Linked DNA regions of Homo sapiens. The protein of the gene in region 2 purifies or fractionates together with the protein of the main gene of each other region. This does not show direct contact. Each region holds a gene or a part of one and is shown on either strand. Other genes may lie near its edges.

Region 1 (3,500 bases), on a different chromosome or scaffold from region 2:
CTCTGTGTGACCAGCACCGCGTCCTTCCCTCCCTGCCTGCTCCAAGGGAGACGCTACAGAGGAAGCCATGCAGAGAGGGGAGACAGAGACTCCACAGCAGCCCTTCAGCTGGGCCAATACTCCAAAGTAACCCTCCGCAGCAAGCAGCTCTCCAGCTGGGCCAGTACTCTGGAGTAACCGAGGGCTGCCACAGTGGCCACATCATAGCTCAAAGGGTCACGCCCTACGCCCTACACCCCGAATGTGTCACCTCTCGCAGTGGTGGGAACTGCAGGTGGATGAAGCGAAGGACCTCAAGATGGGAGATGATCTTGGAATATCCGCATAGGCTGCACAAAGGGAAGCCGAGGGAGCCCTGACTACGGAGAGAAGGCCGTGTGCCTGCAGAAGCAGAGCTGGACGTGAAGCAGCTGGAGCCAAGGGCACAGGCGGCCTCCAGAGCTGCAAGAGGCAGGAACGGACTTTGCCCTGGAGCCTCCTGACGGAGCAGCCCTACCACACCCAGCATCAGCTCCGCAAGACTCGTCTCAGAATCCTGGCCTCCAAGCATGTAAGAACAAACTCGCATTATTTTAAACCAAGCGCGTGAGCATTCGCCGCAGCCGCAGGAGCTCGCGGGCAGCAGGGCCTGTACAGTCACCTCCGCTCATCCAGTCTCACTATTCACGGTTTCAATGACGCGTGGCCCACTGCAGTCTCACAACAGACGAGCACAGTACCGGAAGGTATTTTGAAGAGAGAGAGCACTTTCACATAACTTGATTACAGTACATGGTTATAACTGTTCTGTTATTGTTAACCTCTTACTGTGCCTAACTTATAAATTAAGCTTTATCATAGGTACGTATGTATAGCAAAAAGCATCGTAGGTACAGGGTTCCATGCTACCCAGGGTCTCGGCATTGGCACGTCCCCTGTGGATAGGGGCGACTGCACACCAGGAAAAGATGCCTAGTCTGAGGGCGCGGCCGAGAGCCCTGACCCCAACCAGCGAAAGGCGCTTAGGCTGAGGGCGCGGCTGAGAGCCCTGGCCCCGACAGGGGAAAGGCGCCTAGTCTGAGGGTGCAACCGAGAGCCCTGACCCCAACTCACCTGCTGAGGGCTGAACTCAGGCATCATCACACAGGTGGCTCCCACCCAGAGAGGACAGAGCAGCGCGTTGACCACACCATGGACGTGGTGCAGCGGGAGCACGTGGAGGATCACGTCGTCTTTGGTCCATGCCCACTTGTGGACCAGCCCGGTCACCTGCAGGGGACGAGAGCACAGCTGAGAGCAAGAGCAAGACTGTGGCCCGCAACAGCACACACAGACCTCGGGCTCACGGAAAGGAGCTCTGGGCCTCCCCACTGAGGAAGGGGAAGGAGAAGGCTGGCTCTTTGTTGCTCCCCTTTAGCAGCCTCTCAAGATGACGACAAAACCACAGCAGATCTGCTGGGTCACTCACTTACCCTGGGGACAGAGGACAGCGCCACACACAGCCAGAGGCTTTAGGGAATTTAGAAGGTCGGGGAGTGGCTCTGCAGACACCAGGTCGACAGAGCTCCGCCCCTGCCCAAGCCTGGGACTCAGGGACCCAGCGCCATTCAGGCTGGAATCGACTCCCAGCCCAACCACTGGCTCAGGTGACAGCACTGCCCACACAGAGCTCTGCCGATTCGTGAATTATCGTCACCTGCTCAGCCGGGACAGAACCCAGGCCAGGCTCCAGAGCACACCCTCAGCTCTTACTGAGAAGCAGCGTGAGGCACGGCCCACTGAATCCTCTGTCCAATCTCACGGAGGACACTGCCTGCTGCCTGCACAGGCTCCAGGGAGAAGCACATGTGCATGTCACTCCCCTCAGCAAGGACAGAGGAGTCCAGAGCCCGTCCCTCCCGACAGGCGCGCCGCTTCCAGGAGTGACGGCGCAGGCCACCCAGGGCCCAGCCTGCTGTGTGCTCATGGCGCCTCGTCAGCCCACGACTCCGTGGGGTACACTTCCTGCCTTCCCCTTCCTGGCTTTTGGTTTTCATTTTTACTTGATTGCTTCAAGTGCATAGGAGACGTTATGACACTGTACAAATGCCAGGTAAGTGATGTGGTTGGAGAGTTCTGTGAAGATGTGACTGAGGTCACAGGACACACAAAAAACGAGTAAGACCCGGGTGTATGTGGGGTCCTGACCACGCATCCTAACACGTGGCTGGCCTCCGAAAAGCCCCTCAGCATCACAGGCAGTGAGTGGTCCCTTCTGACCTCATGCCGCATGGTCCTGGCAGGGTCACTCGGCGGCCCCTCAATCCCTCTACACCTGGACGCTCCCAGAGCCGTCCTGCGTGGCCAGTGAGGCCAGCGGCCACACCCCGAGGGCCTGCGTCCCTGTATCTCACACGGGTCTGCAGGATGGTGACAACTGTGAATGACTCCACAGAAAAGCGAATGAAAAGATGTGCTTCTGGCCCGGAGCCCACCCGGAGTGCTGTGCGGTCACCGAAACCATCACGGCGCCAGGCGGCACTCACCACAGCCCTGATGTTTTGGTGCGTGCTCAGCACGCCCTTGGGCCTCCCCGTGGTCCCACTGGTGTAGATGATCATGGCGCCCTTGTTCCTCCATCCCTGCTCTGGGACCGGGACCTCTGCCGGTTCCTCTACTGCTCCAGTGTAGATGGCTGGTGTGAGCGGCAGCAGCGGGACCCCCAGCTTCCTGACCACCGGGCTCAGGAGCTCCAGGTACTCCTGGCTGGCAAGGACCACAGAGCTCTGGGAGTCGCAGATGACATACTCCAGCTGGGCCGCGGGATGCTTCCTGTAGAGGGGGACTGCCACACCGCCACTCATCCATGACGCCCACTGGGCCACGACGTAGGAGGCATCGTTAGCGCATAGGAAGGAGACCCTCTCCTCCCGGAGGTCCCCGCCGACACACCCGCAGAGCCTGCAGATCTCCTGGGACAGGCGAAGGCTGCGGGAATAAAGCTCCCTGTACGTGTGGCGGCCGTGCTGGTCAACCAGGGCGATTCTGTCCCCAAAGGCCAGGGCACGGGTGAACACCGGGGCGCTCCTGTCCGAGCGGGCCACTGGGGCTGTGTGCAGAAGACCACTTCCTCTGTGTCTCGCAGGCGCCAGCCGGCAGGACGCCAAGGCGCAGCCCAGGCGCCGGAAGGTGAGCACCACATGGGGCAGCATTGCACTGACAGGCGGCCGAGCTGGAGAAAGGCAAGGCACAGGACGTGAGTGCCCAACTGTCCCATCCAAACGTGGCCAAGACAGGATTTAAAACACCTCCCCAGTACCCAGCCAGGTACGCCTGCTGCACCTTCAGTCATGAGGCAGCGCACCAGACAGGCCACGTCCAGCCTTTCTCACCCACACTGCTGGAACGTTCCGTACGTGCCCAGCATCTCAGCTTTCTATTTCACTTCATGAGTTTAAGGATTCCCAAACCACACAAAATTCTAAACAATGAAATAAACTAGGTAAAACCAAGGAGAAGCATATAAAATTCAACACACTTAA
Region 2 (3,989 bases):
CAGCTACTCGAGAGGCTGAGGTGGGAGGGTTGCTTGAGTTCAGGAGGTGGAAGTTGCAGCGAGGTGACATTGTGCCACTGTACTCCAGCCTGGTCAACAGAGCGAGACCCTGTCTCAAAAAAAAAAAAAGGAAATTCACATTGTCTCAAATGTTTAAATTTTTCATGTTGTAATGGCGTGTTTTACACTTGGCAATATTGATAATACAGGCATACAGGAATCTTTCTTTGGTTATATTCATATATACATACATAGCCAAATCAATATTTCCATATTAATATGCAAAGTACAAGACATATCATTATGATTTTTCAGTATCATCAAGTACTATGACAAATTGTTTTTTCTTCCCTGAGACAGGATCTCACTCTTGCCCAGGGTGGAGTATGATGGCACAGTCATAGGTCACTACAGCCTCGAACTCCTAGGCTCCAGTGACCCTCCCACCTCAGCTTCCTGAATAGCTGGTACTACGGGCTTGTGCCACTGCATCCAGCTACTTTTTTTTTTTTTCAATAGAGTCAGAGTCTCGCTATGTTGCCTGGGCTGTTCTCAAACTCGGCCTCAAATGGATCCTCTTGCCTCAGCCTCCCAAAGTGTTGGGATTACAGGCAGAAGCCACATTGCCCAACTGTATAATAATTAACATACCCTTTTGGGAGTGGTAAAATGATAGTTAATAATACTACCTTCTAAAAAATGAAATACTTTGATTGCTGTCCAAAAGTGTGTCATTTCACCACAATAAGAAAACTTATGCTTTATTTAAACGGAATCAGACTGATCCAGTTCTCTTTTTCCCCCACACAGGTAGCTTTGGATATGTTAAATCCTCATGTTACTTTGCCTGTTTTTTACCCACATCTTAAGCATGGTGGTGTATGTGCTGTATATGTAGTAAAGTGAGTAATATAACTGTTTTTCTTTGTAATGTAACTTTTAAGTGCACTTTTGCTTAAGTATCAAACTAAATTTTTTTTTTTTTTTTTTTTTTTTTGAGACAGAAAAAAACTCTGTCACCCAGGTTGGAGTGTAGTGGTATGATCTCAGCTCACTGCAACCTCCACCTCCCCTGTTCAAGCAATTATCCTGCCTCAGCCTCCCAAGTAGCTGGGGTTACAGGCGCCCGCCACCACGCCCGGCTGATTTTTTCTATTTTTGGTAGAGAAGGGGTTTCACCATGTTGGCCAGGCTGGTCTTGAACTCCTGACTTCAGGTGATCTGCTCACCTGGTCTCCCAAGGTGCTGGGCTTACAGGCTTGAGCCACCACGCCCAGCCAAAATATTCATTTTGTAACTGAATAAAGTGTATATGGCATCTTATACAACTGTTTTAAAATGACAAGTCCCAAGTTCATTTATATTACTGTATATTTATTTAGTGTTTTTTTTTTTTAAACTTTTTTCGTTTTTTTTTTTTTTTTTTTTTTTGAGACAGAGTCTCGCTTTGTCACCCAGGCTGGGGTGCAGTGTCATGATCTCAGCTCGCTGCAACCTCCGCCTCCTGGGTTCAAGTGATTCTCCTGCCTCAGCCTCCTGAGTAGCTGGGATTACAGGTATGCGCCACCACACCCGGCTAATTTTTGTATTTTAGTGGAGACAGGGTTTCACCATGTTGGCCAGGCTGGTCTGGAACTCCTGACCTCAAGTGATCTGCCCCCCTCAGCCTCCCAAAGTGCTGGGATTACAGGCGTGACCCACGCCCAACCCTATATTACTGTTTAAATCATTTTTTACATAAATAGTAATATAAGATGCATATTTTCTTCTGACAATCTGGAAGAAATGTTTTAAAAGTATAATGTGAACAGTAATGTTAAATTATGGTCTCTGTGTTTGTTTACTTAGAATTTTGTGAAGGTACTTTTTATGCCTCCTAACTTGCATATTTAAACCCTCTCCTGCCTTAATTTAACTATGGTATTTAAATGTGGGCAAGAGGTATAGGGAACTTAAATAAATATAATGTTATTATTTTAGTAGAAATGTAAATTTTTCACTTTTCTGAAAGCATCACACAGGTTATTGAACTTTTAGATGGAATTCGCACCTGTGAACTTGCTCTTTCATGTGAAAAGATAAGCGAGGTCATTGTCAGAGATTGGTTGGTTTGCCTTGCAAAACAGAAAAATGGAATTTTAGCTCAAAAAGTAGAATCTAAAATCAACACAGATGTACAACTAGATTCTCAAGAGAAAATTGGAGTTAAAGGTGAGCTGTTTCAAGAGGATGACCATGGTGAGCTTCAGTTTTACTTTATGCATGCAGTAATGAATGGAGAATGAGTTCCTGAGTATACTGACCAATAGATTATAAAAATATTCCTCAGCAATTTTCTATAGAAAAGTGTGATATTTATTCTGTTAAGATGTATAAGGCACAGAATAATGACTTTTCCTGCCTTTTACTTAAAACTCTGATACCTTTGAAGAATTGAGCTTTTTATAATATTCATATTTTACTTGTCACAAGGAGCTTGGTTTGTGAAATAATTTAAATGTATTAAGGATGTTTTATATTTAGATCACTGATTATTAATGGGACCTGATAGGCAAATAGCTAATATTCCAAAAAGCAACTTCTAAGATGCTGCTGGAATTCTTGAAAGAACTGAGTTTAGGTCTTTGTCATATATACACATTATTTAGGCCATGAACAAGTTTTCAAGTATCAGTTGATTTATGATATAGGCTTATCCATTTGGTTATAAAATCATATGTTTATTACATAATCATTGACAAATAGTTTCTGTATAATAACTGGCAGAGTAGCTCTAAAACATATGCAAGGAAATAAATAAAGAAAAAACTTACAATAAAGAGAGTAACTCATATTTTAACAGTTTTGTGAAAAAAATAGAAAATATTTTATGTAGCTTATAGTACATATATTTTTTTACAACAGAAGAATCGCATTCTGATTTTCCATATGGATCATTTCCCTATGTTGCTAGACCAGTACACTGGCAACCTGGTCATACAGGTGAGTAATGTTTTCAGAACATATTAAATGGTGTTTTTTCTTTTAATTAATATAATGACTTTATGTTTTTCTTCTCTTAAATTAGCTTTTCTTGTCAAGTTGAGGAAGGTCAAACCACAACTTAACTGAGTACTCCAGATGACAGTAACTGACTTGAAGATGGAAAAATATCAAAATAGAACTTTATATTGAAAATCACTGCTTCCATAGATTGGCATTTTTAGCTATTACTATGACTTATATAACTTATACATATAATTTTGAAAATAACAACTAAAAGATGTATAACATAGCAAAACTGCTTAAACATCCCATTTTGACACTTGTCTTGCAGTTAGTTTGACATTTTGTAGTTAATGATTCCAAATTGGTTTAGTTGGGCCATCTCATTCTTCACTTCCTGTAAACCACTCCATAGATTTGTCTTTCTTCAAGAAATTAGTTTTCTTTCCTTTATTTGATTGATGGTCATTGACTACTGAAATAAAATATGCATTTTAAGATAAATTTTATGTATCTGTCCATTTTAAATACATCTTATAATGGCTTGTATATGTCTTAAAAAATAATAAGGAAATCTGGGCTACAGTAAATAATGGGGGGAAACTTAAGAATGATATAATCACCTTAAAAATTGTAACAAAAGATGTAACAGGCTCTTGAATCTCTTTTATCCCCTCAGAATCTTTTTAACCAGCTTGAAAGAACATTAGAATTATTCAGTGTTACTACACAAATTAAATGTTTGGGGGCTGGGCACAGTGGCTCACGCCTTTGGGAGGCCAAGGCAGGCAGATCACCTGAGGTCAGGAGTTCGAGACTAGTCTGGCCAACATGGCAAAACCTTGTCTCTACTAAAAATACAAAAATTAGCTGGTTGTGGTGGCGGGCACCTGTAATCCCAGCTACTTGGGAAGCTGAGGCAGGAGAATCGCTTAAACCTGGAAGGCGAAGGTTGCAGTGAGCTGCGACTGTGCCACTGCACTCCAGCCTGGGTGACAGGGCGA
Region 3 (3,500 bases), about 140 Mb from region 2:
AGGCACGTGCCACCACGCCCAGCTAATTTTTGTATTTTTAGTAGAGACAGGGTTTCACCATGTTGGCCAGGATGATCTCGGTCTCCTGAACTCGTGATCCACCCACCTTGGCCTCCCAAAGTGCTGGGATTACAGACGTGAGCCACCGTGCCCGACCAGAGTCTTAAGGTAGTAGCAGTATTCTTTTTTTGGCTGGGGGCAGGTGGGGGCAATGTATTTGGGCTTGTGCCCTGAATCGTGGACTCCACAACTTCTTGATTTTGAGAAAGCCAGTCAAAACTGCACTGAAATACAGATGCTAAATTTAGGATTTATGTTAGTATATCTTCAAGGATATTATAAGAAAAAATGTCTGCAATTTGTTGATGACTGGGTATTTATGTATATTGCCTTTAATCCCTTCAACAACCTTGCACAGTGGGTATGATTCTCTCCATTTTATTCATTGTTATTATTTTTATTTACTTTTTGTTTTTGAAATGGAATCTTGCTCTGTTGCCCAGGCTGGAGTGCAATGGCATGATCTTGGCTCACTGCAACCTCTGCCTCCTGGGTTCAAGTGATTCTCCTGCCTCAGCCTCCAGAGTAGCTGGGATTACAGGCACCTGCCACCATGCCTGGCTAATTTTTGTATTTTTAGTAGAAATAGAGGTTTCACCATGTTGGCCAGGCTGGTCTCAAGCTCCTGACCTCAGGTGATCCTCCCACCTTGGCTTCCCAAAGTGCTGGGATTACAGGCATGAGCCACCACTCCTGGCCTACTTATTTTTTTGAGACAGGTTCTTACTCTGTCACCCAGGTTGGAGTGCAGTGGTGATCACAGCTCAGCTCACTGCAACCTCCACCTCCCTGGCTCAGGTGATCCTCCCACCTCGGCCTCCTGAGTAGCTGGGACCACAAGTGCATGCCACACCCAGCTAATTTTTGTATTTTTTAGCAGAGATGGGGTTTTTCCATGTTGCCTACGCTGGCCTCAAACTCCGGAGGTCAAGGTATTTGCCCACCTGGGCCTCTCAAAGTGCAGGGATTATGGGCATGAGCCATTGTGTCTAGCCTGTTTATTATTTTTTAAATTAATTTATTTTCTTTTTAGAGACAGGGTCTCCATCACCCAGGCTAGAGTGCAGTAGTGTGATCATGGCTCACTGCAGTCTTGACCTCCTGGGGTCAAGAGATTCTCCTGCTAAGGCAGCTGCCTCCCGAGCAGCTGGGACCACAGCCATGCGCCACCATACCTGACCAATTCTTTTATTTTTTTGTAGAGATGGGGGTCTCACTTTTTTGCCCAGGCAGGTTGTGAACTCCTGGGCTCAAGCAGTCCTCTCACCTTGGCTTCACAAAGTGTTGGTATTACAGACATGAGCCACCGCACCTGGCAGGTTAACTCTGTACAGATGAGGATGCTGAGGCACATAAAGGTTAAATCTTTTGCGTAAGACAGTACCATTGATAGTGGAGTTGGGATTCAAACCCCCATTTGTCCATCTCTGCTATACCGTGCTATAGTCAGAATGATGAAATATATGAAAGGATATATGTATTTTTAATAAACTGTGTTTATTGAAGGGTATCTTTTTATAAATTACAAAAGTTAAAATGTTTATTTTTCTGTTTTAAAACAATTAGAAGTTTTTGGAATTGTGTAGAAAAAGTGTGATCTCTTCCCAAAGATAAGTAGAGATGTTAAGGGTATACACTCATGGAGCCACCTATATACAGCCTTCATTAATGTTACTGATTTAAAAGTGTTGTTCTTTTAAGCACTGTATGCTTCAAACAAATGAGTTGCCCAGAGTTAAGTCTTAAATGGAAAAGGTTTAGCTGCAGGGCATTTCCCAGTTATGATTCATGGAGATTCAAGTTTTCTTTTTGTAAGCATTATAGCGTATGGGAGAAGTTGATCTAATCGCAATTTAAAAAAGCAAAATATGACTGCTATATATATGATAATCAGATGCTATCTAGTCCAAGTATGGAATAGTTATAAGTGTGGATTAAATGGGAAGCATTTGTTTAGTAATTATGATGGGATATAATGGAGAAAATATAATATTCCATGGAAGATTTTTCCTGTTTTTAAAAAATTCTTCATTAGAAGTAGAATATGCTGCTTTTTGAAGCTTATCAGTCATGAGGTCTGATCGGTGCCTGTTGTAGGTACTCAAATATCTCTTGGATGGAGAGCGTAGTTGTTCTTGCCAATTAAGAGGAAATTAAGGGTTAAAGCAAAGCAGCAGCTGCTATCAGAATCCCTTAACTTTGGAATGCAGTAAGACATATTGCTTGTCAGAAACAGCTTTCCAAACCAACAGATGGAATTACAGGTTTTTAAAGCACTTCCATTGCTCCTAGATGCCTGCTAAGTTAGGACAGTTGCAGATAAAGTGCTTACAGCCAAGTGGAGCAGATCCCTTACACTGTCGAAGAAAGTAATTCAGTGGTAGCAAGTTATTTTTAGCTCTGGCCCCGCAGTGCCATTGTACTTGCCTGCAAGACCATCAGAAAATCATTTGGCCTTCTCTATTTTGCTCATTCCTTAACAGATGCTTTGATACTTCGAATTGTTAGATAAATTTAAAATGTACATTTTTATGACTTTTGTGTTTTTTGTTCAGTTTAAAAGAACCATGTAGATTATAGGCTTTCAATAAATACTTGTTAGTTGGACATAAATATGTAAAATTAAGGTTTTAAAGCACAGATATTTAAGATACAGTCTTAGAGCAAGAGAGGCTGTCCTCCTTTTACTGATAATAAGACAAATTAAGTCATTTGCCCAAGATCACATAGTTACTGGTGACAGATCTCAGCATAATCAGTATATATACTGTAATGTACAGTGGTAAATTAAAAAAAAATTAAAAGCCATTTTAGAATGTAGAACTCGGAAAATCTTAAAATTCTTAAATTTGACCTTTGCTTTTAGGAGAAAATGTGCACCTTCTACCATTCATTCCCAGCACTTTGCTTGAATGTGCATGGGTGTAAAAATTATACTTCAACCATAATTTATAGCAGTATTCTAAATTAAAAATTATAAAATGCTAAAAATAGCTTTTGAGCTAATTTTCATGATATTGAACTTTCAGAATATAAAAGAACAAACTTATCCTATTGATCTGCATTTTAGGTATATCCAGAGTCTTCAGGAGCTTCTTGATTTTAAGGACAAAAGTGCTGAGGATGCTAAAGCTATTTATGAGTAAGTTCACTATTTTGACCCTATTCTTAAACCTATTATTAGGTCACTTGGGGGAAATTGGTTAACTTTTAGGTTTCTACTACTTTAGAACATGTGATATATGTGACTGTAGCAGCCCATACAGGCAGGACAAATAACAATCAGCAAATTTGACTAGGCATAAGAAATGCTTCGTGTTCCTCTTTAACAAAAGACAAAGTTCAGGTGTGATGATCAGTGGAAATGTAGGTGTGGCCTCAGTGCCAGTTGGACTGTTCACCTGGAGGGTGCATGCTCCTTCTAATGGACAACCACCTTC
Region 4 (3,500 bases), on a different chromosome or scaffold from region 2:
CTGATTTATTTAACTTCTTTGATAATAACTTCAAACCTAGCAATCATCTTTCTCCTGTGAAGGCCCACTTTATATGAGGCATGAATATTTTAAATTTTTCCTCATAGGATTTGAGGCTTTGTTGACCTGTGTGTGTCACTAAGGCTTTGTATTGTTTTGTTGTTTGATTTTTGCTAGCATGCTTACCACACTGCTTTCTTCACTATATTTTAAGAAATGTAAACAGTCTCATTGTCTCTCGGCCACGTCTTGTGAGTGGAGAGTAGGTGTGGTGGTGGGATTGAAAGGAGAGTCAGGGTGGGAGGACGTTCATCACTGCATTGATTTACTTCACTATCTGTATTACAAACTTCCAAAAAAGATAGAGATTGATAAAATGCTGAGATATAATAAAAAGAAAAATTTATAAGAGGAGACTGAGAGGACAAAATGCGGGTGATGAAGGGTTTCCCCAGAACTGCAGAATGTGCACTCCACCGGGGTCCAGCACTGTTGTCAGTTGCATTCACTTCTGTATCCTCAGTGTCTTGAAGAGTTCCTGGCACCAAGTAGGTGCTTAACAGATGTTTGATGAACAATAAATATATACTTGCAGGTAGTTTTAAAGCACAAAATCGGGGTTCTCTTTGATGGAATCATTAAATTCTGAAAGAACAAAGAAGGCAAGATGGAGAGTAGTGATTGAGTCTCTCCTATAAGCTATGTCTCTTGGAGAGGGGATAGATAGTAATATTGCTGATTTTTAACTCAAGCTGGGAGCTGCATTGTGGTGTTTTCAAATTCAAGGGTTATAATTTGCTTGGGCGTATATCACGACATTCCAGGATTTGAAGGAAAAATAATTTGCTCCTAAAATTGTCCAGCCAGCACTTCTTCCCAGCTCTTGTGGGTGGTTAGTAAAGGTATTGTAGAGGATAGGCAGTCAGGACAAAAGGCCCTCATGAGGAGGATTTCCTGTCCTGGACACAGAATTCCAAAACCAAAATCATTCAAGAGATGGAGCAGAAGAGGATGCGGGGAAAAGAGAATCTATCTCGAGATAATGTGGGGTGTAGAATGTAATTAAAATGTCTATATGTGTGGCTATGGATGTTTAATATACAGATTCTTGTGTTAGGGATTTTAGAGAATCAGATGGCCTCATTTACCACCAAATTTAAATTTTTTTTTCTAGGCTGTTGTTCATGAATCTGAAGGATTGTTGGGGTACATTTACTGTGATTTTTTTCAGCGAGCAGACAAACCACATCAGGTGATCCTTTCTTTATAAACTGGTCTCTCTAGAACCGATCGGCATTTCATTTGTATTGATGTGAACTTTGTATCATTTTTTAAATTCCATGACATTTAAAAGTTACTAATGATGGTTACCAAATATATACATTTGAAATTAAGATAGAATTTTAAAATTAAAAAGTTTATGGAAATAATTACATCAGTCTATATTTGTCACTTTTATCTGGGTCATGGTATTAATTATAGTAACAATGACAACTGACATTTTATGAATCCTTATTTGTGCCAAACAGTGCACTGAGCCCGTTATACACATCAGCCTTTTAATGTTCGCCTCACCCTTTTGACTAGTTACTCACATTATGAGGAAACTGAAGCCATAGAGGTTAAGCTACTTGGCCAGAAGTGCTAGGACTTGAAGGCATACATCCTGAGCAGATCCCCAACTTTTAACTCTTTTCCATACTCGACAATGAACCTATTCTAAAACTGCGGAAGATACTCCATGTGGAAACCTTACCAACCACCAAGTAGCTCCTTATGTGGAAGACTTGAGGCAGCTCATCTCCTTTTCTTTAGCATTGGCCGACTTTGACAGCCAGTCAGCTTTAGCAGTTTCATGTAGCTTGATGGGAAATGTCAAGAGTTTAGGTTATAAGTTATAACAGAAATAATGTACCTTATGTTTGAATAGTGATTCACAATTTCCAAAGCACAGATTTTAACAGATGTGAGCTTATGAATTCTGGACAGCCACTGTGGGATTTGACAAGGAAGCATTTTAGAGATGAGGCTTGCAGAAGCAAATTATTTTCCGAGATGATTTGTCTAGTAGGTGTGAAAGGTAGGAACAGGGTGCAGGTCACCAGACTCTGAGGCCAGTGTTCTTCCTCTTTGCTTAAATGGGTGGGTGGTGGAGACTCAACTTTAGTGATTAGGAGCCCTGGCTCCTAATAGTCAGCCTGGGTTCAGATCCAAGGTGTGGCAGTTCTAGCTAGGTGTCCTTGGACATGTTATTTAATAATCCTAAGACTAGTTTTAGTTTTATCATCTGAAAAGTGAGATACCTGCTACATAGGGTTGTTGTGGAGAATAAGTGATACAGTGTATGTGAGTCTCAGTGTAGTGCCTGTTTCAGAGTAAGTTATTCTGGCTCCGGATCCCTTGCTTTACACTAGTTTAGATCCCATCTCGTTCAAGTGATAAAAGTCAAGAGAGGCTGGGCGCGGTGGCTCATGCCTGTAATCCCAGAACTTTAGGAGGCTGAGGCTGGCAGATCACTTCAGTCCAGGAGTTCAAGACCAGCCCTGGCAACATAGTAAGACTCCATCTGTACAAAAAAAAATCTAAAAATTTAGCTGGGTGTGGTGGAGCACACCTGTAGTCCCAGCCAATCAGTAGGCCAAAGCAGGAGGATGGCTTGAGCCCAGGAGGTCCAGGCTGCAGTGAACTGCGATCACAACACTGCACTCCAGCCTGGGCAACAGAGCAAGACCCTATCTTAAAAAAAGAAAAAAAAATAGCCAAGAGACATGGAAAGTACCTACTAGTTCATTATCTGACACATAGTAGGGACTCAGAATAAATGTTAGTGTCCCTTCGTAAGTTCTTTGCTGACTTTGTTTCCAGCTTCTGGCACAGCATCATTTCAATGCATGTTTTGGGACCAAAGTAATGAGTTAATCCATAGAAACTGAATGTGTTCTTGATGTTTTAAAAAATTAAAATTTTAGCAGAATAAAAAATGTCAAGAAAAGGTGTATATATGTAAATAGATAGAATAAGAATATAATTAAGTTAAAGTTTGCACTCACACATTTTTGGTGAAATTTTATATTCATTAAGACTGTTTTACTCTTCACATTACCAAATACTTTCTTTTCCTTTTATGTTTTCTGATTCTTAAAGGATTGCCATTTCACTATCCGTGGAGGCAGACTAAAGGAAGATGGAGACTATCAACTCCCAGTTGTAGTTCTTATGCTGAATCTTCCCCGTTCCTCAAGGAGTTCTCCAACTTTGCTAACTCCTAGCATGATGGAAAATCTTTTCCATGAAATGGGACATGCCATGCATTCAATGCTAGGACGTACTCGTTACCAACACGTCACTGGTGAGCCATGAGGAGGGCTTTTATTTACTACAGTCCTTTACAAACATACATTTTCTTTGAATTGGGAAAGGGGCTTTTTATTTGGAAAATGTGATCATTTTACCGTGTCCTGTGGTCTTTATCTCAGATTGCCTCATCCTGCCCTCCCCAT
Region 5 (3,500 bases), on a different chromosome or scaffold from region 2:
GAAAAACAAAAACAAAATATTTTTCATTAAAAATATTATGTTAACATGTAATGGATTTATTATTTTTAAACAAATGAACACAGTATATTTTATTTTTTTTTTTTAGACAAAGTCACACTCTGTCACCCAGGCTGGAGTGCAGTGGTGCAATGTTGGCTCACTACAATCTCTGCCTCCTGGGTTCAAGCAATTCGCCTGCTTCAGCCTCCTGAATAGCCGGGATTACAGGCACCCGCCACCATGCCCGGCCAATTTTTGTATTTTTAGTAGAGACAGGGTTTCACCATGTTGGCTACGCTGGTCTTGAACTCCAGACCTCAGGTGATCTGTCCCCGTTGGCCTCCCAAAGTGCTGGGATTACAGGCGTGAGCCACTGCACCCAGCCCCACAGTATATTTTAAATTTCTCAGTTTTAATTTCTAAGAGGGGCTAGGCATGGTGGCTCACACCTGTAATCCCAGCCCTTTGGGAGGCCAAGGTGGGAGGATCACTTGAGCCTAGGAGTAGAGACCAGCCTGGGCAATATAGTGAGAACCTGTCTCTATGAAAAATACAAAAAAATTAGCTGGGCATGGGGGTGCGCACCTGTAGTTCCAGCAACTCAGGAGGCTGAAGTTGGGGGACTGTTTGAGCCTGAAAGATGGAGGTGGTGGTGAGATGAGATGGTACCACCACACTCCAGTCTGAGCAACAGAGCTAGGCCCTTTCTCAAAAAAATAAAGTAAAATAAAAATAAAATAACCCCTAAGATGGCAAATATTGATAGATAAAATTCATATAAACAAAAGCTCTCCAGGATCCTACTATTAGGGAAGACCTGCTGTCCATCCACCATCACTGAACTCTCCACCAAGGCCCTGGCTGGAGGACCGGCCAACAGCTCTGAGAGAGGGACCTGAGGTCAAATGCTGCCTCACCATGCAGGTGCCAAACTGTGGCTGGTCCACAAATCACTCTTTGTTTACAATTACCAAAGTACAGAAATTGAAACTCAACCTTTAGAAACACTAAGAGCAACTGTACACTGCCACAACAACCAACACATGCTCCATGGGCTTGTATGGTGTGTGGCCTTGGCTTTTTGCCATCTAATTTTTTTAGTTATTCATTTTTATTATAGCTTTATGGAAGTGTTGACCTGGAACAGTATGGAAATGTTTAAAGTGCTCCTGAACCACAAATACAATGAGAAGCATTTAACTGGATGTTTTTTAATTAAATGGCAATAGGGATGAAACCTAAAGCAAAATATTATGAGTGGAAACCATTTCTCCCTCAAGAAGACTTCTCCTATGTATGTCACTTCTAATATAAATATCAACCAAATAGCCCTTACAATGGAAATCGGCAATGGTAAAGAAAACCATACATACCCTCTTCAGTGAAGAATTTTTCCACGGGTCCCAAGAACTGATTGATTTCATTAAGTTCATCTTGGCTAACTTCTGGAAATGGGAAAACTTCTTTCTAAAAATAGTAAATATTTTCTAAAAAATTTAATTTTTAGCACACTCCCATCACGGAAATATCAGTTAAAAGGGAAGGAAAAACATGTGCTCCACTCCACCCTGGCCAGCGGGACATGACGTACTGAAGGAACTGGAAAGCAAACCTCACAAGGTTCCTGAGATACAGAAACTATGTGCAGGCTCCACCACCCACATCCATCTCCCTCCCCTGTTCAAATAGGTTCTTCCCGATTTTCATCAGTTTTCCTTCTCAGTACAAGGGATGATAATAGTCCCATGAAACAAGGAGCCCAAGACTAACATTTAGAAGCCTGGGGGTCTGGTCCTTGATTTCAGGCTTACTCATTATGTGGCCTTCACCAAATCCCTTCAGCTCTCTAAACTACCCCTTTCTCACCCATAACATGCAGGTAATATTTACTCAAGGCCCTTGTGAGAATCGTGGAAGATAGTGGATGTGGAAACTCCTTACTGAAATGGACAATTCTACATCAATTATTGTGTGAGCTCAAAGATGCTATGCTGACAAGAGCACATCATGCTTACCAAGTCTCATCGATCCCTACAGCCGCTGTCTCTCCTGCTCACAGACATCTGCTCCCTGTGCTGAGCCCCTCTGGACTTTTGGGCTCTGCTACCCCTTCAATTGCCAGCATGACATGAGCTTTGGATGTGGGCTTCAGGCTGTTGAGCAGTGATGTCCTGAGTCAGAGCTATAAGCCCAAGCATCACCTGTCCTCATGGCGCCTCTCACCAAGTGTTCTAGAGAAGTCTTGGGGAGACCTCAACCTTCTCCTCAGACCTTGTACAGCTAATCAGCCAACAGATTTCTCTACTCTATCAATATGCTCGCACTGCTTTCTCCTCTCTGGGCCCAGGACCACAGGCTTATAGGTGAGTCCCTAACTAAAAGTGACAGCCAACTTAAAGGAATCCCTGCCTCCATCCATTCCAAAACCACCCTGAAGGTGGTATAGAAAAAAAAAAAGGTTGGAGGCCAGGCACGGTGGCTCACGCCTGTAATCCCAGCACTTTGGGAGGCCGAGGCGGGCGGATCACGAGGTCAGGAGTTTGAGACCAGCCTGACCAACATGGTGAAACCCCGTTTCTACTAAAAATACAAAAATTACACGGGCTTGGTAGCACGCGCCTGTAATCCCAGCTACTCAGGAGGCTGAGGCAGGAGAATTGCTTGAACCCGGGAGGTGGAGGTTGCAGTGAGCCGAGATTGCGCCATTGCACTCCAGCCTAGGTGACAGAGTGAGACTCCATAAAAAAAAAAGAAAAGAAAAAGAAAAAAACAAGCTTAGCTGGTTGCAGTGGCTACTGCCTGTAATCCTAGTCCTTTGGGAAGCTGACGCAGGGGGATTGCTTAAAGCCCAGGAGTTCAAAACCAGCCTGGGCGTGGTTGCACACGCCTGTAGTTCCAGCTACTCAGGAGGCTGAGGTGGGAGGATCCCCTGAGCCTGGGGAGGTTGAGGCTGCAGTGAGCTGTGATTGCACCACTGCACTCCAGGGTGGGCAACAGAGTAAGACACTGTCTCAAGGAAAAAAAAAACAAGAAAAAAAAAAAAAAACAAGCTGATGGCTCCATCACTCTGCAGCCTTTTATATCAAAGCTCAGTCTCCTTCACTGAACACAGAGGCTCACTGACACTTGGGTCTTGTGCAATGGGCTGTGTTAGAGATCATTCTGGTACCAGTGGGCAGGCCAGATAAGACTGCCTGGCAACTAATTGGCCTTCAGGTACAACCACAGAAAACCTGCCACACAGGAGAGATTGCAGGGGCGTGGGAGAAAGATCCTGATGTTATCAAATCAGGTCAATGCCTTAGGGGAGGAGAGTTCAATTGCAATAAACAGTTTGTAAATTATCTAAAAAAGTGGAACCTGTTATTCAAAGAAATCTAGTGCAGAAACCAAATATGTAAAACAGACAGAAGCAGGCGGCTCTGACTGAGACTGCTGATAGGGAAAACAGGCACCCAAATCCCACCCACTCAACTTCCCACCCATCCCTGCAGCAGTTC
Region 6 (3,500 bases), on a different chromosome or scaffold from region 2:
TTGTATTTTTAGTAGAGACGGGGTTTCACCATGTTGGCCAGGCGGATCCAGAACTCCTGACCTCAAGTGATCCACCTGCCTCAGCCTTCTAAAGTGCTGGGATTACAGGTGTGAGCCACTGCACCCAGCCAACTTATTTCTCATTATATTATTTAACACCATTTCTTTTCATCAGGGTGAAGTGGTAAAGAGGGTACTTCCTGTATTCACTGTGTAACAAATGTTTAATAAATGCATGTAGAATACTTGTTTGGTGGTAGCTGTATAAAGGGTGTCATGGGTTTGCAAAATATTTGTATTAACATTGGGTTTTTCTGGTGTTTCTGCGCAGGATGTGATGGTGGCAGGTGGGATGGAGAGCATGTCCAATGTTCCATATGTAATGAACAGAGGATCAACACCATATGGTGGGGTAAAGCTTGAAGATTTGATTGTAAAAGACGGGCTAACTGATGTCTACAATAAAATTCATATGGTAAATGTGATTTTTAGTGGATAAATGCTATCTAATGTCCAATACTGTTTGATTTTTCTTACTCTATGTACTTTACAAACTGAACTGAAAGATGGGCTCTATAAATGTTGATTTTAGCCGTGTACTTTTGGAGAATATTTTTGTATGCCTATTGCATCGGCATGGCTCAGTCATTAAAGAAATTTTCCCACATTTAAATAGGGTAATTTCTGACGCTTAGCTGGCAACTGCTTGGCTAATTCAAGTATGTGAAGATAAGACATGAGTGGCTGGGTGCGGTGGCTCTGGCCTGTAATCCCAGCACTTTGGGAGGCCGAGGCAGGTGGATCACCTGGGGTCAGGAGTTTGAGACCGGCTTGGCCAATGTGGTGAGACCCTGTCTCTATTAAAAATACAAAAAAATTAGCCAGGCGTGGTGGTGGTGTCTGTAATCCCAGCTACTCAGGAGGCTGAGGCAGGAGAATTGCTTGAACCCGGGAGGTGGAGGTTGCATTGAGCCAAGATTGCACCACTGCACTCCAGCCTGGGTGACAAGAGTCAAACTCCGTCTCAAAAAAAGACATGAGTGAAAAGTGACCTGGTATAGAAAGAAATATATATGTGTGTGTGTATATATATATGTTATTATTATTTTTTTGAAATGGTGTCTTGCTCTGTTGCCCAGGCTGGAGTGCAGTGGCACAGTCTTAGCTCACTGCAGCCTCCGCCTCCTGGGCTCAAGCAATTCTCCTGCCTCAGGCTCCCGAGTAGCTGGGACTACAGGCACGTGCCCCCATGCCCGGCTAATTTTTAGTAGAGACGGGGTTTCACCATGTTGGCCAGGATGGTCTTGATCTCCTGACCTCATGATCTGCCTGCCTTGGCCCCCCAAAGTGCTGGGATTACAGGCATGAGCCACCACCTCCGGCCTAAGAAATATATTTTAAGAAACGTTAACTATTAAACACTATAAGTTAGGCAAAGTTAATAGATATTTTCTAAATTATGCAAAGTTAACTTTAAAATATTTCAACTTTTTATCAGGGCAGCTGTGCTGAGAATACAGCAAAGAAGCTGAATATTGCACGAAATGAACAGGACGCTTATGCTATTAATTCTTATACCAGAAGTAAAGCAGCATGGGAAGCTGGGAAATTTGGAAATGAAGTTATTCCTGTCACAGTTACAGTAAAAGGTAGAGATAATGTTCCAAAAAGGATGAATAGACTTTTCATGTTGCTGAATGTTTTATGCTTAAGTTTTAAATTAGGACATTATCTTGGTTCATTTCAACTGCTTATGGTTAATAAAAAGTGAAGAGTTGCCAGTTCAGAGAGAATATAAATCTACCCAACTTAATGTCAGATTTCAATCCATTTATAAGATCCCTGAGTATTACTTTAAATTTGAGAAATTTATTAGAACTTTTTCCTGTGACAGTCAATACGGTATTTTAAATTGAAAAGGGATTTACTAGAAGGTTACCGGGAGTGCCTCCAAGAACTGAAGGATGAACAGTAGCAACCATTCAGCTCTGGGAACTTCAGGGATTGGAACTGGGTGTTCACTACTACTAAGACATGCTCTCTTGGCTTCTCACACCTGCAGGCTTTTGTGCTTTATTCTCTCAGCCTTTCTAAAGTTGCTGCCTCTACCTCTAGGGTCACATATATAGGGTTCTCAAAAAGGAGAGACTTTCTCACCAGTTCCAGCAGAATAAATCCACAATGAAGACTCATTAACTTGCTTTAGGTTACAATTCTATTCCAGGAATGATTACTGTGCTCTAGGTGACAGAATACTAGAGCTTATCTAGTGTAGGTCAGACAGCTGCCTCTGGGGTCAGGAGAGTGGGGTCTGTGATCATAGAAGGGAGTTGAGGAAGAAAAGGGGACATGGAGGTGTAGAAGATTTAAATTTTGTGGCTGGGTGCAGTGGCTCACACCTGTAATCCCAACACTTTGGGAGGCCGAGGTGGGAGGATTGCTTGAGCCCAGGAGTTTGAGACCAGCCTGGGCAACGAAGTGAGACTTGGCCTCCACACAAAAAAATTAAAAATTAGCTGGGTATAGCAGCACACGCCTGTAGTCCCAGCTACTAGGGAATCCAAGGCAGGAGGATCAATTGAGCCCAGGAGTCCGAGGCTGCAGTGAGCTAGGTTTGTAGCATTGCACTCTATTGGGAGACTGTGCAAGACCATTTCAAACAAACAAAATTAGCTGGCTGTGGTGGCTCCCACCTGTAGTCCCAGCTACTTGGGAGGCTGAGGTGGGAGGATCACATGGGCCTGGAGAGGATGAGGTAAACTGTGATCATGCCAGCCTAAGCAGGAGAGGGAAACCCTGCCTCAAAAAAAAAAAAAAAAAAAAAAAAAATTGTGAAGCTACTTTGTAAGTTTCTCTTTTTAAGATGGTAACATAATAGAGGTTATAGTTAACAGATTCTAGATGAGTGTTTACTTGGGATGGTTTAAGTGAAGCAGGGATACAAAGGGAGGCACAGACTACTAGGCATCTTGTACAACAGTTGCTTGCTGAATGACTACTTGTTTTGAGCGATTTTACTTAAAATATTTTTATTTTAGGTCAACCAGATGTAGTGGTGAAAGAAGATGAAGAATATAAACGTGTTGATTTTAGCAAAGTTCCAAAGCTGAAGACAGTTTTCCAGAAAGAAAATGGTTAGTGTTAAGAAATGAAGCATAAGAAAAAATTGAGCCAGTATACCATATCTAGTTCTTAGAATTGCCTAAGGATTTTGAAAAATTCTAGAAAACATCTAGATGTTATTTAACATTTTCAGTATATCAGGCTCATGTAAAATTGTTTTGGTAGTTTATACCTTCAATATATAAATCCCAGGGAAGATATGTATAACATGACTATAGAATTCAGTTTTTCATATGTAGCAGTCTATGATAGGGTCTTCATTGGCATTGAAAAAAACAGATTTATTGATATAATTTATATACCATAATAACATTCTTCTATTTAAAGTGGTTTGGTAGTTTTTAACATTCATTTATATTTATCTCCAGGTGATTCTA
Region 7 (3,500 bases), about 160 Mb from region 2:
GATATCTGCGTTTCCTCCTTTCCTTGGTCCTGAGTTTATATTTTATTTACTTTATATTCTGGAAGGAGGCGTGATATAAGCAAGTTACTTTACCTTTTTTTCACAAACTCTTTGAACTAATGTCACTTTAGACTATGCTGTTTCCATCACGCAACTTTAGTGTGGTTTAGGATACGAACGTCTTAATATCACATAGAAAAATTTAATGATCTTTGCTCAGTTTTGTCTTTAGTGATCTTATTTAATTTTGTTATGGTTCATTCTGTTATCTTGAAAACCAACTTTGCTTGCCTCTCTTCGTTTTCAAAATTGTTCTCTCTTCTTTCCTAGTTCTTTTTGAATTTCCTCACTGGGTAAAAACCCTGAGGCTGAGGCCTTTGTCCCTTTCCCACTTGTCTGCCTTCTCAACAGCGTATCCCTTCTTTCAGCTTTGACTCTCATCTTTGTGTAGGTAATACTTCACCTCTTAATCCAAAGCTCTGTTCTTAAATTTGTCGCCACATATTCAATGACTTCAAATTTTAAGTCTGTACCCTGATATTCATTCTTTTCTCCAATTCAACCTATTTTGCGTACTGTTATGAGAGTAATTTTAGAGTTTTAATTTGAAAATAGCACTCTCTTCCAGAAAACCAGCAGGATCTGGAATGAGCATTATATTAAAGTCACAAACTATGTTATGGTTTATGCCAGCACTTGCCCATATGGACATTTTTATCATACTTTTCTCTGTTAAGCTGGTTATACTTATTTCCATAAAGTCCAGAAGTATGTATCCTATCTTAGTGAATGGTCCCTAGGAAGAGTCAGAGGGATAGAGGTAAGGGGCATTATTAAGTTTTTTTATTTGGACATTTATTTTTTAATGAGAAAGGAAAAGAGATACATAACAGAAATTGGGCTGGAAAAATACCAGCATATGTATGTTGTTAGAAAATAGATAATTCATACAGGATGCAATATTGAAAGTATTCTGTTAAAACAACAATGAGGTCACTTTCCCCTTCTCAGATTGGCAGATGTTAAATCAAGTAATTGGGAAAATAGGAACTCTAGCATTGCTAGTAGAAGTATAAATTATTAGTTCAGTTACTTTAGGCAGTTTGGTAGTTTCTGTTAAAAACTGCATAGCTGTGATGTGGTAGTTGGATGTTTGCATATCTACATGAAGTCGTGGCATTCAGAAATATTTGTAATTACACAAATAAGCATGCTTTAAAATATATTTATATTTAAAAGTAAAAATGCAAGCAAAAATGATTTCAGCTAGCTTTAGTTAGTATGGATTTATGTTTTGATAGTTCAGCTTTATGTTTTGATAGTTATGGACAATGAAGGGCAAAGAAAATCATCGAGGTGTATACTCTGAAAATTGAATTTTTTTTTTTTGAGATGGAGTCTCGCTCTGTCACACAGGCTGGAGTGCAGTGGTGTGATCTCGGTTCACTGCAACCTCTGCCTCCCGGGTTCAAGCCATTCTCCTGCCTCAGCCTCCCGAGTAGCTGGGATTACAGGCACCCGCCACCATGCGTGGCTAATTTTTGTTTTTAGTAGAGATGGGGTTTCACCATGTTGGCTGGGCTGGTCTTGAACTCCTGACCTCAGATGATCTGCCCGCTGTGGCCACCCAAAGTGCTGGGATTACAGGCGTGAGCCACCGCACCTGGTCTGAACATTGAATTTCAAAGTAAGATGAAATGCTTATGAATTTCAGCGAACATTGAATTGGGTAGATTGAACAATACTAGTAAGGAAGTTGAGTTAGTATTTGGCAGATATAAATATTAAGTTTTAGAACTGAATGACAAAACCTCTGTTAAAATGGGGGCACATGTTTTTATGATCCTTCAGTATTGCATTTGGTTTTAATTTTAAAAGCTAACATATTTACAATTCACTTAAGCTAAAATCAAGGTGGAAAGTATGTTTAATTTTTTCCTTTGGGCTTCTCAGGCAGCCCCTTAGTTATTTTTGATTTCTTCATTATTAAAAATTTTTTTCTAGGTGATGATTATCAGTGAGTTTTAGTTTTTTTTTTTAAATTTTATTTTTATTTATTTATTTATTTTTGAGGTGGAGTCTCACTCTGTCACCCAGGTTGGAGTGCAGTGGTGTGATCTCAGCTCAATGCAACCTCTGCCTCCTGGGTTCAAGTCGTTCTCCTGCCTCAGCCCCCCATGTAGCTGGGACTTACAGGCACGTGCCACCACACCTGGCTAATTTTTGTATTTTTAGTAAGATGGGAATTTACCATGTCAGCCAGGATGGTCTCGACCTCCTGACCTTGTGATACGCCTGCTTCGGCCTCCCAAATTGCTGGGATTACAGGCGTGAGCCACTGCACCCAGCCCAGTTTTGTTTTTTTAAAAGCAAGTGAAAAAGGTACCAATAACTATATGTCATAACATTTTTGTGACCTAATATTTATATTGAAATGTGCATCAGTCATTGATAACTTTGTCCATGATCTGTAATTAACAAACTCATGCTGTTAATTTATAGTTTTATTAATATTTGGATGAAATTCACTGAAAGAACAAGAATTAGATTCTGAGGGGTTTAGTCTCCTGGACTTTTAGCTGCATATTTCCAGACCTTACTCTTTTATAGAGAAGTCTACCTACCTCAAAGTCAGCTAATCCATGAAATGACTACCAAATAGAATTCAGCCTTTTTTATGAGGCAATATGTAGGCCAGCTAAAAGGGAGGGGGGGCACTATTTTAGTCCAAAGATAAATGTCACTTTGAAAGAAATTTGCTGAAGATATTTGTGGGTTTCTTTGAGTTTTAAAAAGTTATTTAAAAGAAATCAGGCTGGGCGTGGTGGCTCATGCCCGTAATCCCAGCACTTTGGGAGGCCAAAGCAGGTGGATCAGTTGAGGTCAGGAGCTTGAGACCAGCCTGGCCAACATGGTGAAACACTGTCTCTACTAAAAATACAAAAATTAGCCAGGAGTGGTGGCGGGCACCTGTAATCCCAGCTACTCGGGAGGCTGAGGCAGGAGAATCGCTTGAACCCAGGAGGTGGAGGTTGCAGTGAGCCGAGATCATGCCGCTGCACTCCAGCCTGGGTGACAGAGCGAGACTCTTGTCTCAAAAAAAAAAAAAAAAAGAAAGTAATAGTAAAAGGCTGTACTACTTCCTTCTTGTGATATTTGAAATGAAGAAAAATTATGACCATATAAGCTGAAAGCCTAATTATAGAATTTGTGTGAGGGAGCTCAATCATGTTAAATCCTATATAAATTAAGGTTATATTTTATAGTTGCCTGTCTGTGCCTTTTCACCTTTAAGTCATTTGCTAGTAAGAGAAATGCTTAAGAAAGGTGAGTAAACAGATGTATTTATAAAAATAGTTATTAATTACTGATATCTCTCAGTGAGGTACATAGCTTTCACATAGAGATACTGTTAGTACAGTTTTACCCTGAAATCTACTCAGGTGCAAAATTGCTTTGGTTATGAAACACATTACTTGTGAGTCATCACTGCACTTAGT

What was found.
Region 1: the proteins of TRMT61B (region 2) and ACSF3 purify together in Homo sapiens (affinity purification with mass spectrometry; 2 studies listed by BioGRID and IntAct, with this or other methods). This does not show direct contact.
Region 3: the proteins of TRMT61B (region 2) and PDK1 purify together in Homo sapiens (affinity purification with mass spectrometry; 2 studies listed by BioGRID and IntAct, with this or other methods). This does not show direct contact.
Region 4: the proteins of TRMT61B (region 2) and MIPEP purify together in Homo sapiens (co-immunoprecipitation; 2 studies listed by BioGRID and IntAct, with this or other methods). This does not show direct contact.
Region 5: the proteins of TRMT61B (region 2) and ACAD9 purify together in Homo sapiens (co-immunoprecipitation; 3 studies listed by BioGRID and IntAct, with this or other methods). This does not show direct contact.
Region 6: the proteins of TRMT61B (region 2) and ACAT1 purify together in Homo sapiens (co-immunoprecipitation; one large-scale study listed by IntAct). This does not show direct contact.
Region 7: the proteins of TRMT61B (region 2) and GLS purify together in Homo sapiens (affinity purification with mass spectrometry; 2 studies listed by BioGRID and IntAct, with this or other methods). This does not show direct contact.

Annotation. Positions count from the first base shown.
Region 1 is NC_000016.10:89,100,352-89,103,851, reverse strand, and holds part of ACSF3 (malonate--CoA ligase ACSF3, mitochondrial isoform 1 precursor), read right to left. Parts: intron 3,191-3,500; 5' UTR 3,171-3,190; coding exon 2,505-3,170; intron 1,249-2,504; coding exon 1,093-1,248; intron 1-1,092. UniProt on the Homo sapiens protein: Catalyzes the initial reaction in intramitochondrial fatty acid synthesis, by activating malonate and methylmalonate, but not acetate, into their respective CoA thioester. May have some preference toward very-long-chain substrates.
Region 2 is NC_000002.12:28,849,321-28,853,309, reverse strand, and holds the end of TRMT61B (tRNA (adenine(58)-N(1))-methyltransferase, mitochondrial precursor), read left to right. Parts: intron 1-810; coding exon 811-902; intron 903-2,011; coding exon 2,012-2,238; intron 2,239-2,699; exon of another isoform or gene 2,700-2,904; coding exon 2,905-2,982; exon of another isoform or gene 2,983-3,067; coding exon 3,068-3,111; 3' UTR 3,112-3,368; coding exon of another isoform or gene 3,369-3,460; 3' UTR 3,461-3,489; downstream 3,490-3,989. Other genes in the region: SPDYA (speedy protein A), read right to left, coding at 3,369-3,460.
Region 3 is NC_000002.12:172,559,090-172,562,589, forward strand, and holds part of PDK1 ([Pyruvate dehydrogenase (acetyl-transferring)] kinase isozyme 1, mitochondrial isoform 2 precursor), read left to right. Parts: intron 1-3,130; coding exon 3,131-3,202; intron 3,203-3,500. UniProt on the Homo sapiens protein: Kinase that plays a key role in regulation of glucose and fatty acid metabolism and homeostasis via phosphorylation of the pyruvate dehydrogenase subunits PDHA1 and PDHA2.
Region 4 is NC_000013.11:23,837,401-23,840,900, reverse strand, and holds part of MIPEP (mitochondrial intermediate peptidase), read left to right. Parts: intron 1-1,174; coding exon 1,175-1,252; intron 1,253-3,144; coding exon 3,145-3,349; intron 3,350-3,500. UniProt on the Homo sapiens protein: Cleaves proteins, imported into the mitochondrion, to their mature size.
Region 5 is NC_000003.12:128,882,620-128,886,119, reverse strand, and holds part of ACAD9 (complex I assembly factor ACAD9, mitochondrial), read right to left. Parts: intron 1,468-3,500; coding exon 1,374-1,467; intron 1-1,373. UniProt on the Homo sapiens protein: As part of the MCIA complex, primarily participates in the assembly of the mitochondrial complex I and therefore plays a role in oxidative phosphorylation.
Region 6 is NC_000011.10:108,138,567-108,142,066, forward strand, and holds part of ACAT1 (acetyl-CoA acetyltransferase, mitochondrial isoform b precursor), read left to right. Parts: intron 1-331; coding exon 332-475; intron 476-1,498; coding exon 1,499-1,649; intron 1,650-3,038; coding exon 3,039-3,134; intron 3,135-3,500. UniProt on the Homo sapiens protein: This is one of the enzymes that catalyzes the last step of the mitochondrial beta-oxidation pathway, an aerobic process breaking down fatty acids into acetyl-CoA.
Region 7 is NC_000002.12:190,883,821-190,887,320, forward strand, and holds part of GLS (glutaminase kidney isoform, mitochondrial isoform 1 precursor), read left to right. Parts: intron 1-3,500. UniProt on the Homo sapiens protein: Catalyzes the first reaction in the primary pathway for the renal catabolism of glutamine. Plays a role in maintaining acid-base homeostasis. Regulates the levels of the neurotransmitter glutamate, the main excitatory neurotransmitter in the brain.